Linked DNA regions of Homo sapiens. The main gene of each other region encodes a partner of the protein of the gene in region 2 in a complex. Each region holds a gene or a part of one and is shown on either strand. Other genes may lie near its edges.

The links.
Region 1: CUL3 (region 2) and KLHL25 share a complex: the UniProt entries of both Homo sapiens proteins name them as parts of the BCR(KLHL25) E3 ubiquitin ligase complex.

The regions. Positions count from the first base shown.
Region 1 is NC_000015.10:85,758,611-85,761,487, reverse strand, and holds the end of KLHL25 (kelch-like protein 25), read left to right. Parts: intron 1-476; 3' UTR 477-2,162; downstream 2,163-2,877. UniProt on the Homo sapiens protein: Substrate-specific adapter of a BCR (BTB-CUL3-RBX1) E3 ubiquitin ligase complex involved in various processes, such as translation homeostasis and lipid synthesis.
Region 2 is NC_000002.12:224,470,037-224,473,863, reverse strand, and holds the end of CUL3 (cullin-3), read left to right. Parts: 3' UTR 1-3,714; downstream 3,715-3,827. UniProt on the Homo sapiens protein: Core component of multiple cullin-RING-based BCR (BTB-CUL3-RBX1) E3 ubiquitin-protein ligase complexes which mediate the ubiquitination and subsequent proteasomal degradation of target proteins.

The DNA.
Region 1 (2,877 bases), on a different chromosome or scaffold from region 2:
ATGCCCGATGGCAGGAAAAGAGCAACCTAGCTCCAGAAGAAAGAAACCTGAGTCCCCATTTCCTTAGCTTTTTATTCCACCAGGGCCCCTGCCCATCTGATGGTGCTCACCTGCAACCACGGCTCTCACGCCGGTCACCTCTGGAAGCACAGACTCACTGGGGCGGCCTGGCCATTCGAATCAAGTACCAAGCCGCCTGGGTTTCCCTTCCAGCACTGAGAATACGTAATGTGTCCCCGGGCGTCTGGGTATCCCCGAATCCAATCAAGTTGACACCTGAGTCACCTGCCACTCAGTGGGGAAAGCAGGCCTGGGGTGCCTGAATCACCAGACTGCGCTGCCGGTGAATGGTGGATCTGGCGTTCTCACGCCCGAGCCTCATGGGCAGCTGTGTCATTGTCATTTTGTTCCAGATCAGGTCAGAACAGAACAATGTGGCCACTGATTGATTTTCTCTTCCTCTCCTCCCTCCACAGACCGCGGCCTTCAGTGTCACAGCGTGGCCTTGCTTGTCTGCCACAGCGGGAGCTAAGCCGGCCCTGGGCCAGCACTCCGAGAGGTGGAAGGGGCCCTGCCAGCTCTGGGGAGCAGCAGCCTTGGGCTGTTCTGAGCTTTAGGCAAGAGAAGAGAAGCATCTCTTGCATCCGTGCCCCTGGGGGCCTCTTCAGCTTTGCAGTGGTTTGTGGGAAGACATACCTCCCAGAGGGGCATGGACTGCCACCAGGACTGACCCTGGCGTCGGGGAGAAGGACACTTGCAGAGCCTTGAGATCACCTGTTTGGCAGGTCCTGGACTGGGGCCGGGCAGGCAGGGGCAGGGAGGCGCCCCGGGTGGGCTTTGGGGCTGCGGCACTGCCACACATCCTTTCCCTCCTGGCCTGCCCTGCTGGGGCTCTACTGCCATCTATAGATGGTGTCCTGGGCCTGGGAAACTAGGTTCCCAGGGGTTGAGACCAGAAAGGTGACCAAGACAGATTTTTTAAGGTGCAGAAACTGCAGGGGGGCCTCAGTGACATCCATGAGGCCTTATTAGCAAAGGACACCCAGACCTCCAAGGTTTGTGGGCCCCTTCCACAAAGCTGTAAGTCCCAGCCCACCTACTCAGGGCCTTGCTCAGTGCTGTGGCCCGGTGGGGACACAGTTGCTCGTGGCCACTCAGTGGAGCTGGGCCTGCAGCAGACTCAAGGCTCCGAGTGCCCTGGGGGTCACCCCTCCCCTCCCCTCCTCAGAGCCCACCCTGAGAGGCAGCAGTGACCCCCATGGCACACACCTGCCAACAGCACTGGGGGCTTCTCCCCAGGAGACCACGCTGCCCTCCAAGACCAGGAGCAGCTGTGAGCTGGAGACAGCAGAGGGACCCCAGGGTGTCCCCTGCAGATCCCACCAGGGCCGCATCCATCTCAGTGTGGAGGACAGTGACGGGACCCTCACCATCCTCTTGCGTTTTGGCCCCCATTTGCTCCCTGAGCTCCAAGATAAGAATGGCCCCGAGAGAACTGCTGAACATTTGTTCATTGCTGTCACCTCCTGAGTCACTGGGGTCCCTCACCAGCACCTCCCTGACACCTGGGCTATGGAGAGGTTGGCGCCTGTCAGTGACCATCCTAATGCCTCTCGCTCACTCCCAAGCCACCATTTGAGAGGGAGGGGTGTTGGTGCCCTGACAGGGACTGGGCAGGGTGTCCAAACTTGGGGCTTCCCAGGCACCTGCAGTGTGAACACTGCTTGGCTGGCTCAAGATTAGGGCCGCGGAGGGGGCTGTGCACATACCAGTTACTTAAGCAGCCACGAGTGTCCCCCATGCCTTGGTGCGGGTCCTGGAGGCCTCTTGGGGGTGGGACCTTTGGGCAGGGTTTGCCCACTGACACGCCCGCCATGGGGCACTGGCTGCATGGGGCTCCTTGGACCCTGTAGACCCAGCAGACCCCGCCTGTGTCAGGCCAGCTGCCCGAAGGCACTTGGCTGTGGTCCCAGGGGACGGCTCTGCTGGCACACTCAGGAGCCTGGCCGCGGGGACTGCAGGGAGGGTGCCTGGACCCGTGGGGTTGCTTCATTGAGATAAAGCACACTTATCACATAGCACAAAGGACGTGCCATGGTGCTTTCCCCAAAAGTTGTGTTGCTTTTATCAGTTTTCTAACTTAATAAAAAGAGTTGAGAAAATTCTTTGCCTGCCTTGTGTGCTGGGATCAGTCTTGGAGACATTGCTGGTGGCTGACTTTGGTCTTGTCCCACCAGCCAAGGCTCAAGGCCTGCCTGCTGGCATCTGCCCCTCTCATGAGCTGGGAAGGGGGAACCCACCCAGATGAGAGGTCTCCCCATTCCTGTGCCTCCTGAAGTTGCTTTAGAAGCCATGAAGTTGATTCCGTGGAGAGTCCTGATCCTGTCTGCCCCTCCTGAGAGTGATTCTCTCCTGGAAACTCTGGTAAATAGAAGTTGGGAATGTAATTCCATCCATTCGAAAAGGCAGAACCTCCAGTTGATGCTCCTTTGTCTGAAAATAACCCGAGCGCCATTCAGAGGGGCGAAATGGCTCCAGGAGGCAGCTTCACGGCCGCAGCGCCAGCTCACGGCACCGTTGCGCCCACTGGTTGCACCGTGGGCCCTGGGCTACCTGCCCTCCTTGTGCGTTTTCATAGTCACCATGAACCTCATGAGCTCAAGCGTATGCTCACGGGTAAACATCGTGTTCTGTGTTTTGTGATCTCACCTTCAGGCGCCCCTCAGACAGCGGGCAGCCCGAGAAGGTCATGCCGTGGCGCAGCCTGCGTGCAGGGTGGCTCTGCTGTGAACAGGAACCCGGAGGTGCCCCAGCACGGTGGCTCTCAGCAGTGGCTTCCGTGGTGCTCAGTGGTGTGCTGGCCCACAAAATCCAAAT
Region 2 (3,827 bases):
GCTTAGCACTTTGCGCATTGTGTAAGTTGGGTAACAAAAATGGCAAAAGAAATGCAGATTTCCCAGTTATCTTGCTCTGAAGACATTTCTTTAGCTAGTCTTATTTAATTTTAAAGGTTTGATAAATATACAAAGACCCAAGCATACAATTTGAGCATGCTGTATTCTACCACTTGCACTTACTCATCTTCTAGCCTTATGACCAGGAACCTTTGTTTTGGGCTCAAGTACACATCCTGATTTGGTTTCTCCCTGTTGTAATTTGAGATTTCCCAAATTAAGTCTTATAATGATTAGGTTTTGTTCTGAGTTATTTCTAGAGAAAGAAAGTATTTTAGTATGTGTAAATTGTACAATAATTTTTTTGCTGTTGTACTCACTGCTAATAGTGGATTGTATAGGGTGGTGTTTTTATTTCATTTATTGTAGACAAAAATAATGAATTTAGTATACACATACCCACTAATTCAAGTATGTCAGAGCACAAAGTTGGCAGCTGGTTATATTTAATTCAGCCCCTCTGAAAAGCACATACAGTCTATACTTTGTTTATAAATACCCTAGGTCCTCCCTGCCCCTAAATATATATTTTGGTGAAGCTGTGGTGCACTATTAATTTTCTGTTTCAAAATGCAATCTAAAGATGCAATAAATATGATGACCTTGATAGTTTTAATGAAATCTTCAATTCTTGCAGCTGTGTTTTGGAAAGTGATTAAGCAATATTTCTCAAACCTGATGATTCTTGGATATTTAGCTATTGTCCTCCAAAGAGTCATCGTTTCACGTTTTCAAACATGTGCTTTGTGCTGAAGATTCTTGTCAGATATCCTGTGCTTCCAGAGTATTTTTATCTTCAATTTTATTTAATTTTGTTTCATTTTGTTTTCATAAGACAATGTTTCAGATATGTAATGGGGCAAACCACTATAGATTTCTGTTGGATAGAAAAATGAAATGTTACTAATAAGTTTAAATTGACCCTTCGTTGACTATCAGTACTGTTGATACATTTATTAGAATGTATGTCTCAGAAGATGGTTTCTGTTTAAATTTATGGTCAAGTTACAACAACTGAATTCTAATATGGATTAAAAACTCCACATAAATATTTTTCCCCATGCGTCTTGGGTTATAATTTTCCTTTTAGACTTGCAAATATGCTTTTATTGCAATTTTGTCTCCATCTGTACTGTAGAATTACAAGCCTTGTGCTCTTTATCTCTACATTTTCCACTTCTACATGATGCAATTAAGATGCCAATGAAAAGTATTGTGAACATTATTCTCAGGACACTTTTACCATACTTGAGTAGTACTAAGTCAGGTGTAACATGGAAAGCTAAGGGTTTCACCTTCTGATTTTGACATAATTGGAAATTTTCTATAATGGTAAGATGTTTATAGGAAAGTAATGGTAGTTCATGTTTGAGAATTTTTTTATTGCTTTCATTTCCCAGTTAAATGATATTTAACACCTGGGAAAACAGGACAGCTCAGATTGTCGAGTTAGTAAACATGAGCGATGTAAAAACTTTATTTGAAATCTCCTAAGTGAGACATTAAACATTTTAGTGCTAGTTTAAGCCATTAAAAGTAAAGTTTAAGTTTACGTCATTGTCTCAAGTGTGGCTGTAAAAATCAGATCTAGAGTTTAGAGACATACTTGTTAACTTTGGAGCACAGGTTTGATATTTATGCTTCTAAATACATTAAAACATTTCTGAATTGCAGTTGAATGGTTGGAGATTGCTGGCGATGTGATGCTGCACTGAAAAAACTGGTCACACAAAATGTTTATATGTTTGACTGCATAAGTATTATTTTAGGTCATAAAGGTTATAACAAAATACATTTAACATTGCTTTCTTTTTAGCAAGAGGTCACAGATGCTATTTTTTCTCAGTTTTTAATGCTTTAATTTGAAAGAAAAATGCATCCTAACCATTCCATCCTGTTGGTGCAGAGAAATTTTGGTGATTTATTAGAAGACTTTTAAGGAGGGTGGATACATAGTTTTTCAACTGCAAAAATCATGTCATCTCTTCAGTAACTGTTAAAGTGTAATTCTCTGCCTTCATTATCAAGTCCAGGACAGTGTTTATTTTGAATCGTTAACATTATTTAAAGACTGAAAATTCATTGCAATTAGGGAACGCACAGCCTCACAAAAAGTGGTTGTGATTGCAAGGATTCTTTATGTCAGTGAACTTAAAAAGGGAATGGGGGAAGAGATGCATGCCTTTCTAAAGGTATGCTAGAGTCACCTGTGTAGCATTGTAATTATGTACTATCAAACCCCCAAGATGCTGATGATAGGCCTTCTCTGTAAGAATCCTTCTCATAGTGAAGCACTGTTGATGTTTTGTTCACCGGATATGTTGGGTAGCAGAAAAGGCCTAGAACCAGTTTTAAGATTATGCCTACATCTCTAGAAGACTAGTACACTGGCATCATCTTAGGTTTCTAAATATTATTTAATTCCTTAATTTGGAAAGCAGTTTTAATGTTTACAGTTTAAGATACTCATTTTCAGTAACTAGTGTTAAAGATTTTTATCTTTGCCTGTCTACTGTAACTTAAGACTTTCATAGAATAATTTTTTATAGAGTATATGGTATATTGTGTCAATCTTGGAAGGAAAGCTGTTGCATATCAATTGTAGGTCATGTATTTTACTATATGTTGCATAGTATTTTGCATTCTGTAAATACGAATGTTAAAACATTTCAGGTCAGCAAAATTAGAAGTCATTTCTAGTCCTCAAAGCAGAAATAATTAGAAATGTTAACATTTAAGTGCTTATCATATGCCAGATACTATTCTGAATATTTTATGTATATTCATTCATTTAGTTGTCATATTGGCTTTATGTGACATAACTGTCATTATACCAGTGTTGTCCAAGGTTGCTAGCAGGAAATGGCAGAGCCAGGAGTTGGACCTAGGTTTAATCCTATCCATATTCCATGTTACAAATTGACATGATTTTCCATATTAAAAAATTTTCATTTATTTTGTACCTCATTCACATGAATAGTAATGTGACAAACTAAAGTTAATACATGAAGCATTGCAATATGGAATTTTGCACATTTTTGTTAGCTTTACATTATTTGCTGATACCAACTTTTGGTAGGAAGGAAAACAGGGAAGGTGATTGCTGCTATTCTGGAATGTGTCCATTGAAAAGAAAATAGGCGCTTTGTCTCCTACAATCTTAGAGAAAGTTTTACATACTTAAGTGGGTACCACAGATAGGCATGTACCTTAAATTCAAATCTACAGTTTTACAAAATGTTTTCCTTTGTGTGCCTTTCCTATGTCAAATTAGCCAGAAGGAAGAAGAGACGTTAAGAATGGCAGATAAATTTAACAGGTAATGATACAGAGATTGGCCATTACGCCAGCTCTCAGGAGAAAAACAACTAGGATGTCTTGAAACCCGTGCATTTAATTTTAGAAATGGCAAATTTGTAAGCGTGTCATTTAAGTAATTTGATGCTCAGTTTTAGGGTCTAAGTTGACCTCGAGTGAGCCATGCAAAAATAGCTTTAAAATTATACATGAGCAGCTCAAAGTAAACGTGTATTTTTTAGTAACAATGAAATTGTCAAATTTCAAGATTTTAATAACAGGACAGTTCAACTAATAAACTTTATTGCATACAAGATTTATTGCAATGTGGGAAAATTAAAATTCTCAGTCTCAGAATTCTTTCTGCAGTTGTGATTCTTGAATAAATGCCTCAGCACGATGTCTGGTATGTAGTGGATGTAGGCACTCAGTAAATCTTCAGATGAATGTGCTAAATGATCACTCAGTGT